2 linked regions of the Homo sapiens genome follow. The protein of the gene in region 2 purifies or fractionates together with the protein of the main gene of each other region. This does not show direct contact. Each region holds a gene or a part of one and is shown on either strand. Other genes may lie near its edges.

What was found.
Region 1: the proteins of THAP2 (region 2) and FAM76B purify together in Homo sapiens (affinity purification with mass spectrometry; one large-scale study listed by BioGRID and IntAct). This does not show direct contact.

The regions. Positions count from the first base shown.
Region 1 is NC_000011.10:95,779,783-95,783,282, forward strand, and holds part of FAM76B (protein FAM76B), read right to left. Parts: intron 3,483-3,500; coding exon 3,283-3,482; intron 167-3,282; coding exon of another isoform or gene 145-166; coding exon 97-144; intron 1-96. UniProt on the Homo sapiens protein: Negatively regulates the NF-kappa-B-mediated inflammatory pathway by preventing the translocation of HNRNPA2B1 from the nucleus to the cytoplasm.
Region 2 is NC_000012.12:71,672,784-71,678,657, reverse strand, and holds part of THAP2 (THAP domain-containing protein 2), read right to left. Parts: intron 4,456-5,874; coding exon 4,260-4,455; intron 1,970-4,259; coding exon 1,550-1,969; 3' UTR 1-1,549.

The sequences.
Region 1 (3,500 bases), on a different chromosome or scaffold from region 2:
CTGATTTTGGTAAGACTTAAGTAACAAAGTTGAAGGGATATCACATTTATAAATATACATTTCAAAATACTTCAGAAAATACAGCAATGTATTTACCTCTGTTTCCACAGTCCCTGCTCTTCTTCTGGACTTAGATTGCTGATTCTGAAAAATACACAAATGACATCTAATAATGACATTTATTTATTTAATACATCTAAATTTAACATTCTTTCTCAATGGATACAAATTTTATGTTTATAATATTTTCTTCAGAGAAAGGTATATTTAAGTTTTCAGACTAAGCTAATACATATTGAATAAATCACATTCTGATGAAATAAATTTTAATAAAATGACTGCTAACCATCTCAAGTTCTTCAAGAATTCTTTATAATCAGGATCTCCACAGTTCAATTTAATATCATACAAAGGGTGGGTTACACAAGTAGTTTTCGTGCTTGTGTCTAGGTATCACTGTACTTTGGCTGCCCTTACTATTTCAGACACAAAATTTGTATCTTTAAAGTTAAGGCTTTCCTAATAATCTGAAGTAGAGATTCTTCTTTTGGAGTAACTCAAGTTGCTCAGAATAGTATTTCAATTTAAATGGGGAAATATATTGATTTCTTTGATTCTTTCCTAGTTTTCTTAAGAATCCTCTCCAAAGTCCATAGAGCTCTCTTTAGTTAGTATTCTGGAGAAGTTACGCTGAAACTATTGAGAAATTTCATAGTAACAAATTATTTTACTTTTACTCATAATTAATACTGTAATACTCCTTTTCTATTTTACCCTAATACTAATAATCACTTTATAATTCATCATGAATCCTTCATTTTTTTCCTCCTAAACTTGCATATCAGTCAATGCTTCACTAACCCTAGCTTATTCACTCAGCATGTAGAGAGCATCTCCTATGAACCAGATGCCACGTATTTATACGATTTAGAAGATGTTAGAATACCTGAGCTGTGACCTTATGCAAATTACTTAACATCCCCAGCCTTAGTTCCCTCATATGTAATACATACCTTATACTGATATGAGCATTAAATGAGTTATATATGTAAAATCACTTAGTACAGTGCTAGCATATACAAAATAGACATATATATATATACATGTTTACTTGTGTCTAAAATTTACTATTGGTTCAGCTGTAGAAGTTTTTTAAGCAAAAGAAAAAAACAAACCTTAAGACTCAGCTGTAAACAAGTACCAAGTTGGGAAAAAAATGTTAATAGCAATAATTCCATCAAGTGAGTTATTCTTACTTGTGAATGAATGGAAATCCTATTGAGGAATGCAGTTGTCCCTTTTTTTTTTTTCCCACAAATTTCATTATAAGCCTAACAAGCCATACATGAACTAACAGCACTAACCATATCTCAAAGTTAAGAATAATCACATTAATATCACTGACAGAAACACTTGGAATTCCCATCTTATCTTTCTGAGGGTTGTCCATTCCTAGATTCAGACCCACCTTAGTGCCACCTGGCAACCACATCCCCTACCCCTGCCGATCACTATCTATCACAATATGAATGCTCCTCATTTTCATTCTGATCTATTGAACTTAAGATAGGACCCTACAAAGTAACTGTTCATCAAATGGTCAACAGCCATCAAATAGAAAATAGTGTTTGTATTTCATAAGTAACCAGAAGTAAAAAAATTGAAGACTTTCATTTTCAATACTGTTCTCTTTCCCTTTATTTTTGAAACCTGTCATTCTTTCAAAAAATTAAGTTGCTGTCACATACTTTAGTCTTCACAAACATAATCTGATTGTGTCCTTTTACATCATGCTAAGACAAATTTATCTGTAAAGAATAGGGAAAGGAGACATTTTGGGAGTCTTAGAAGTAGGTCTGACATATGCTATTATGGTATATAGTCATTTTGTCATATTTTTTCTTAAAGCAAGAAGCAAAAACAAGGTAGACTTATATTATTTTGCTTCTTGAAATACTCTGATATAAAGATCACAAGGTTTCTTCAAAACAGCCAGAAGAGAAGACACTGCATTGTAGTCTACCACTGCCACATTTAGAAAACACTACAACATGGTAGAATTAAACATCACTAACCTCAACGTAACCTCATAATCTAATAGGTGATTGGATACAGTTTACAACAAATCTTACTAATTAGACAGAACTACATTACATTCTAAAAATACTGCATGTGTTCCAAAATGAGGTGGGCATCAGTTGTTTGTAAATTCTGTTTTAAATAACTATCTGAAACTTTAAAGACTCACAGAAAAATTTAAGAACAAACAATAAATTATTCTGAAAATGGGCATGCCATATGTCCGTTTTTTCCATTTTAATTTGTGTTTGTCAGTTTAATTTGTATTTTCATGTTCTTGATTTTTCCGTGAAGACTAAAATTGCATTTTAAAAAATCTTTATACCACACACATCAAGGGTTAAGGTACTACTACTACTACATAACTCCCCCCACAGGTCACTTTAAAAATCAAGTACAGCTGACCCTTGAACAACCCAGGTTTGAAATGTATGGGACCACCTATAGGAGAATTTTTTTTTCCCAACCAAATACGGATCAAAAATACAGTATTTGGAGGATGTGAAACCTGCATATATAGAAGGCCAACTTTTCCTATAGGCAGGTTCCACAGGGTCAATTGCAGAACTGGAGTATATGCAAATTTTGGTCTATGAGGGGGTTCTAGAACCAATCCCTCAAGCATACTGAGGGAAAACTACAGTTGTCTCTATTTAAGTAGAGTTCCTAAATATATGTTTGAAAAAAACACAAAGTATCATTAGTTAAAAATATTGCTCATATTTTGGGGACCACAAAGATCAGAAATGCTTCTATCATAGTAACAAATTATAGTATTAAAATATGTTCTCCAAACCCAGTCATTGGTTTGTTTCGATTTGTTTTTACTAAAACAAATTGACAACTAAAATATAATTTTTCAAATAAAACCTTAACAATTATTTAAACAAAAAAAGAATACTGAGGCTTTTGATAAGTTATTTAAGTGTTAATTAACTGACGTACTTGTATTTTGACTTTACATGGTTATAATTTTATAGATTTTCCTAAATATCTGTATTATGGTAAACAGCTCAACATATTTCATGTATATAACATTCTACACTGAATAAAATGGAGACACAGCCTTAGACACTCAAGATGCTTACTGTGTACAATGGAAACTAGACTAGCACATAGTCAATATTTGCAAGAAGTAAACATCAATAAATGGCATTAAAATGCAAGGAAGAGTTTTAGAAAATATGATTTCAAAGTACTTACTTGTGATGGCTACTGCTGTGACGATGGTGATGGTGATGATGGTGGTGATGATGTTTTGGATGATGCTGGTCTTTCTCAGTAAGAGATGAAGAAGATGAATTTGAATGTGAAGATCCCAGGCTCTTCCTTTGTTCTTTCGTCTTCTGTAAAACTCTTTTGTACGATAAAGTACAGAGCCAGCATAATAACTTTCCATCAACCTTTTAAGAAAATGTGTT
Region 2 (5,874 bases):
AAGTAGCTATTACTTTACAGGAAAGATTACAGCAATTTATGACTTGGTTTATGCTACCTTTGTATGTTAGTATCACAAGCTTGAATTAAATAAGTTGAGTTAAATAACTTGATTCTCTATTAACAAATTTTTACATGATTTCAACAAAGCTGTTTGAAGCAAAGGGTTCCTATTAAACATTAGTGAAATAAAGCAAACCCTTTAATTGTTCAAGTGGCAATGATAAGAATAGTTCTGAACTTTTATTTTATAAAATAATTAGCATTTGCATACCACTATCACAGACATACACATATTTCTATAGGGAACATTTAATTTCCCTTATGCACTATGGTTGCTTTATTTTTGTTGTTGCTGTTTTAGAGACAGGAGTCTCACTCCATTGCCCAGGCTGGAGTGCAGTCGTGCAATCACAGCTCACTATAGCCTCAACCTCCTAGGTTCAATTGATCTTCCCACCTTAGCCTCCCAAGTAGCTGGGAACACAGGCATGCTAGTTGCTCTATTTCACTCACTAAAAAAGGAGATAAAAAGCAAGCTGATGTCTAAGATAAACTGATGCCATTTTAAGTTATCAATACAAAGTGTGAAGATATAAGTAGTTTCCTGTGATTAAATTTTACTGTGGGTTTATGAAGAGGAAAAAAAAAGCCCACTATATTGATACACTATTTCTGAGGTATAGTATGCATTTGGAAAGTAGTTAAAAAGAAAACAAAAAACCTTAGGAGTTTTGGTTATCAACAAATATGGAAGCACCAATTTTGAAGTTGGAAATGTAAGATTTTTATTATGAGAAAAAGAGTAGTATACATTTATCTAAGCTAGGTCCTGAACTCTGAATTATTTTACAACACTTACTTAGGTGAATATTATCAGCTACTAGATTTTACTAGTTTAAAGTACTTGAGGCCTTACCTAGTTTGGATGACTCAATGGTACTTCACATTCAAATATTTTCAAAATATTTTACAACCTATTTTAAAATCATTCTTATGAGAGAGGCCATGATAAGCTCACTTTTACTGGTAAAACAAAATATAGAAAGTTTTAATTTAAAAACTTGCCCTGTACCTTTTTTTCTATAAATTTTTCAAATCACAGTGCCAATTATAATTTAATTAATACAAAACCCAGCAGTTTTAAGGTCATGTTGAATGTTGGTTAACTCTTATTTAGCATCTTATTTAGAATGCAATATGCCAACTTTGGTACAGGAAAAAATTCTTCTCTAAGTTAAACATATTACTTATCATAAGCTGTTCTTTTAACAGTAGTTTAAAAAGACAAAAACAAAAAACACCTTTCAAACACACAATTTATTAGCAAAATTTTTAAGTCCGTAATTCTAATGTAAGGCACTTCCACTCATTTTCAAATAAAATTTCCATATGAAGTTTTTTATTCTTTTGTAATCAAGTCTTCACAAATTCAGTAATGTTACTTCAAGTAAAACTTTATTAAATAATGAATTTTGGCATAAGTGCCATAATTATCTTTACTTCTGAAAAGAATGAAGGATAGGCATCAAGCTCTGTGCAAGCTAAATTTAAATGAAGGTACTCTTGGTCTGTTTTAGATTTAGACTTAGCAGTGTTTTATCTTGTTGATCTTGTTCAAGGATCTTAAAATCTTCCAAAGGAAGACTGCTTAAGGCAGTTGGTAACATGTGTTCTGATGTACCTTTAGGTAATACACTATTTGCTTCTAAATTCTTTACCAAACACGTGGCTTTGATCCATCTTCGAGTTGCTCTGCGTTCCTTTTGTAGGCAAGTTTTCATTTTTCTTCTTAAGCTTGCTATTTCTTTTTCCAGTTTAATGATCCTCTTTTTTGCCTCCATAGGATTCCTAAAGGCATAGCTGTGTTCAAGTAGTACTTGCTGACTACTAATGTTTGATTTTAAATTAGATGGTCCAGCTGGAGAACAACTGTTGTTTTTCTTCAAAAGATTCCTTGACTTGAGTTTCTGAGCCGAATAAAATTAGAGGGTTGAACATAAATTATGAAATATCACAAATAAGCACATAGTGTCCAGTTTTGGATAACAGTATTTAAACTGCTCTTTTAAAAGTCAATTTTAAAACTTTAATAGGAAACAGCAGCAGCCATCTCATGTAATCCAAGATTAAGTTTTTTAACTGGTTGAATTAACTCTAGTCACCTATTTCTTTTTGTCCCATATCCAGAGAGATTCAAACACTGATTTGGAAATAGACAATGGACGTCCAAGGTTTCTTCCAAATTATTGACTATGACTCTATAGAGACTTTAAAGATCCTTTGCAATTTACTAAGGTCAATTTACAATATATGTAGATATTATTTATGATATTAATTTGATCCCCTTTTAATTAAATACCCTTTTCTCAATTTGATAAATATTTTAGACCCAGGGTCCTATTTAATGAAAACTGAAGGATCTGTAGAAATGTATTCTTAAGTACCAAGCTTCTAAACAGATTTACCTATTAATTTTTGATGGTTATATCTTCAAGGATTTAAAATCTGGCTAGGAACATTTGCCAAAATCAGGAGACTTTTTTTGCTTTTATCTCTTTCATTCAAATGGTCATCAAGTCCTATTAATTCTACCCACTAAATATTCCTACCATGAATCCTCTCCTCTCCGTCATTCTTTTTTTTCCTTTCTCTGTTCCACAATAAGGCTGAACACTGTCATTCTTAATGTCACTACTTACACTGGGCCCGTATCATATCTGTTCTGACTATATTATTCTTTATTGATCTCTCCACTTCATTTTGATCCTCATTAATCCACATTCTGCCATAAGAATAATTTTTCTAGAATATTTGACTTTTCCATTCTGGCCAAATTATTCTTTGCCTATCTATTATCTAAAGGAAAAATAAATCTTTAGATGGCATACTATACAATTTAGGATCTCACCCCATTCTGCAATTTACCATCTTGATTTATACTCCAGCAATACTAAGCCACTGGGAGTTTCCAGATTATATCATATCCTCATAAGTCTGTGTCTTTAATTCATTAAACATTTATTGAAACACATACTATGCATTCCTGGGGACACAACACTGAACAAATAAGATGATGTGGTTCCTATCCTCATGAAACCTACAGTTAGTCCCTCTGCCTAGGGAATTGACAGGAACTCTTTTTTGATCTTTGTATCTCTAGCACTGAGCTTAGATTCTGGCATAATGGAAAGTTTAGTTGTATTTATTAAATAAATAAATTATCAAAATGTCAAAAATAAGGTGTATTTCAAATTCAGTAAGTATTTGAGTATATACTATGTCCCAGGCACTGTTTGAGGTGCTGAGGATTCACGTGTGAAAAAGACTAAGTTCTTGTCCTCCTGGAGCTTTTCTAACATCAGTGGTAATTAGCTTACCACAACCTCGTCTCCATTCAGATAATAACTCATATACATTTAAAAGTTTAACAGTTACAAACAAGAGAAACAGTAGTTTTTCCTCAGAGGAAAACATGTTTGTCCTCCCTTTCAAAGCTAAACTATTTGTGTTCATTTTACCCTTTCTTACTCTTGGTGACCCTGTCTTTCCCAGCTAGGTTTTCCTCTCTGGTCAGATCTTCCCTAACTAGATAAAACATTGTTTTAATTCATTCATCTTATACCTTTATTCTTTCGTTTTTTTTAATTTACTTTTTTTTGCTTCATTTTTTCTTCATTCTTTCCTTTAAATATCACTTGCTAACATTTCCTACTCACGCCTCAACCCACTCGTTTTTGTTCTCATTATGCAACTGTAATTATTCTGTGCAAAGCCAAGTTCCCTTTCCTCTATTTTAAACTCCCAAGGCTTCAAAAGCCCACCCTGAATGCCCAAGCTCTCTGAAGATTTCTGTCATGCCTGCCTCCCTCTGAACTTACATTCTTTGGTTTAATTCTGGCTGTGTGCTCTTAAAGTACTTTGCACATGTTATTTGTATGTCATTTTAAAATCAGAGCACAGTGATGCTGGAGGTTTCATTACTCATATGATTTTTCAGTTTTACCAATGGTGCAATTATTAATAATAATGGGTAATAATGTAAAATTCCAATATAGTAAAACAATTTGGATTGGGGAAAGAATATTGGAGTCAGGAGACCCAAACTCTGATTCTAGCCTGTACCTTTACTGTACAAGAGGAAGGTCTGCAACTTTTTTGAGGCATATCACTATAAATGAATTTCAGTTAATAACTGCATAAACAAAAAGGAATGAGTTCTAAAAATGGTTTTAACAAAAGGAGAGTAACATTACCTACCATAGACTTTATATGGGTACAAAAATCAAAAATGGTTGGAACAGCATCCATTTTAAGTCGTCGAGTTTGTCCTGTTAGGTCAAAACAGGAGGCTTCAAAGTGCTTTGAACAAAGAAAAGTGTGTTTTCCTGGCACAAAATTTTTGCGCCTAACCAGGCGAACCCATTCTTTTCTTCTTTTAGGATCCAAAGGAAACCTTAAAAAAAAAAAAATGCAACTCAAATTCCAACTATCATAATTCTGGCTGCACCTAAATGATTAAAAGAAATTTCGAAGATGATTAAAAGTGTGTCCCATTTACCTAAAAAATTTTAAACTAACAATATCCAGACACTGGAACAGAAACCAATTCATGGTAATGTTTTATAAGTTTGAAAAACTTAGTCAAAAACTGACTTGAGTCGTTTATTTTTCAGGGCTTTTAAAAAGAGACATTTCTTCCCAATTAGCCCTTAATCTGGGCAGTAAATAAAACATGACTAAACTGATTTAGATCAAGTTTAAGTAGAACAATTATAAGCGGGAGTAATTTCACCACGCTTTAATCTGCTGCTGATATATGTAGTCAAGAAAAATCAGATATCTAAAGATTAAATTTTGTCAAGGAAAGCCTAGGCAGATTCTGGTACTCTTTCCTCTATGTCCCATCATTAAGACACTTACCACCTTGTTTTGTAATTTTTCCATTTTAATTTCCAGTGACATAAAGATTATAAATTTCTTGAGGACAGGGATCATTATATCTTGTTATGTATTTATCTTTGACACTTAGCACAATGCTTTGCAAACAGTAGGGATTCAACAAAATTTGCTAAATTAATACAAATACAGAGTAATAATATACTGTATGTAAACAGCAAATACTTTTAAAAAGTCAACTCTTTAATTATGTAGTGCAGCAGAAAGTAAACTTACAAAAAGGTAAAATGCTTTGTAGCAATGTTTTTCCTTTCATATTTCAAATATAAAGTACAGTTGACCCTTTAACAACATAGGTTTGAACTACACAGGTCCAATTATATGTGTATTTTTTTCAATAAATATATTTGAATTTGAAACAATTGGAAAAAACTTGCAGACAAACCATGTAGCCTGGAAACATCAAAAAAATTAAGAAAAAGGTATGTCATTAATACATAAAATATATGTAGATACCAGTCTATTTTATCATTTACTACCATGAAATATACACATACTAGTCTATTTTGTCATTTACTACCATGAAATATAAACAGATTTTTAAAAGTTAAAATTATCAAAATTTACAGAGACCATACATGGCATCATTCAGTCCAGAAGAATGTAAACAAATGCAAAGATGCAGTATAATAATAACTGCATAAAACCAACTGTAGTACATACTGTACTACTGTAATAATTTCATAGCCATCTTCTATTGTAGTGAGCTCAATAACTGCTGTGAGTACCCACTTAAAGTGCCATGTGATGCTAATTATCTCTGTCTAAGCAATTCGTCTCTCCAGTAAGTTGTGTATCATGGCAGAAAGTGATCTCTCGCAGTTCTCGCATATTTTTCATTGTATTTAGTGCAATACCATAAACCTTAAATAATACCATGATACCCATATGAAGTGCCATTAGTGATGATGGATGT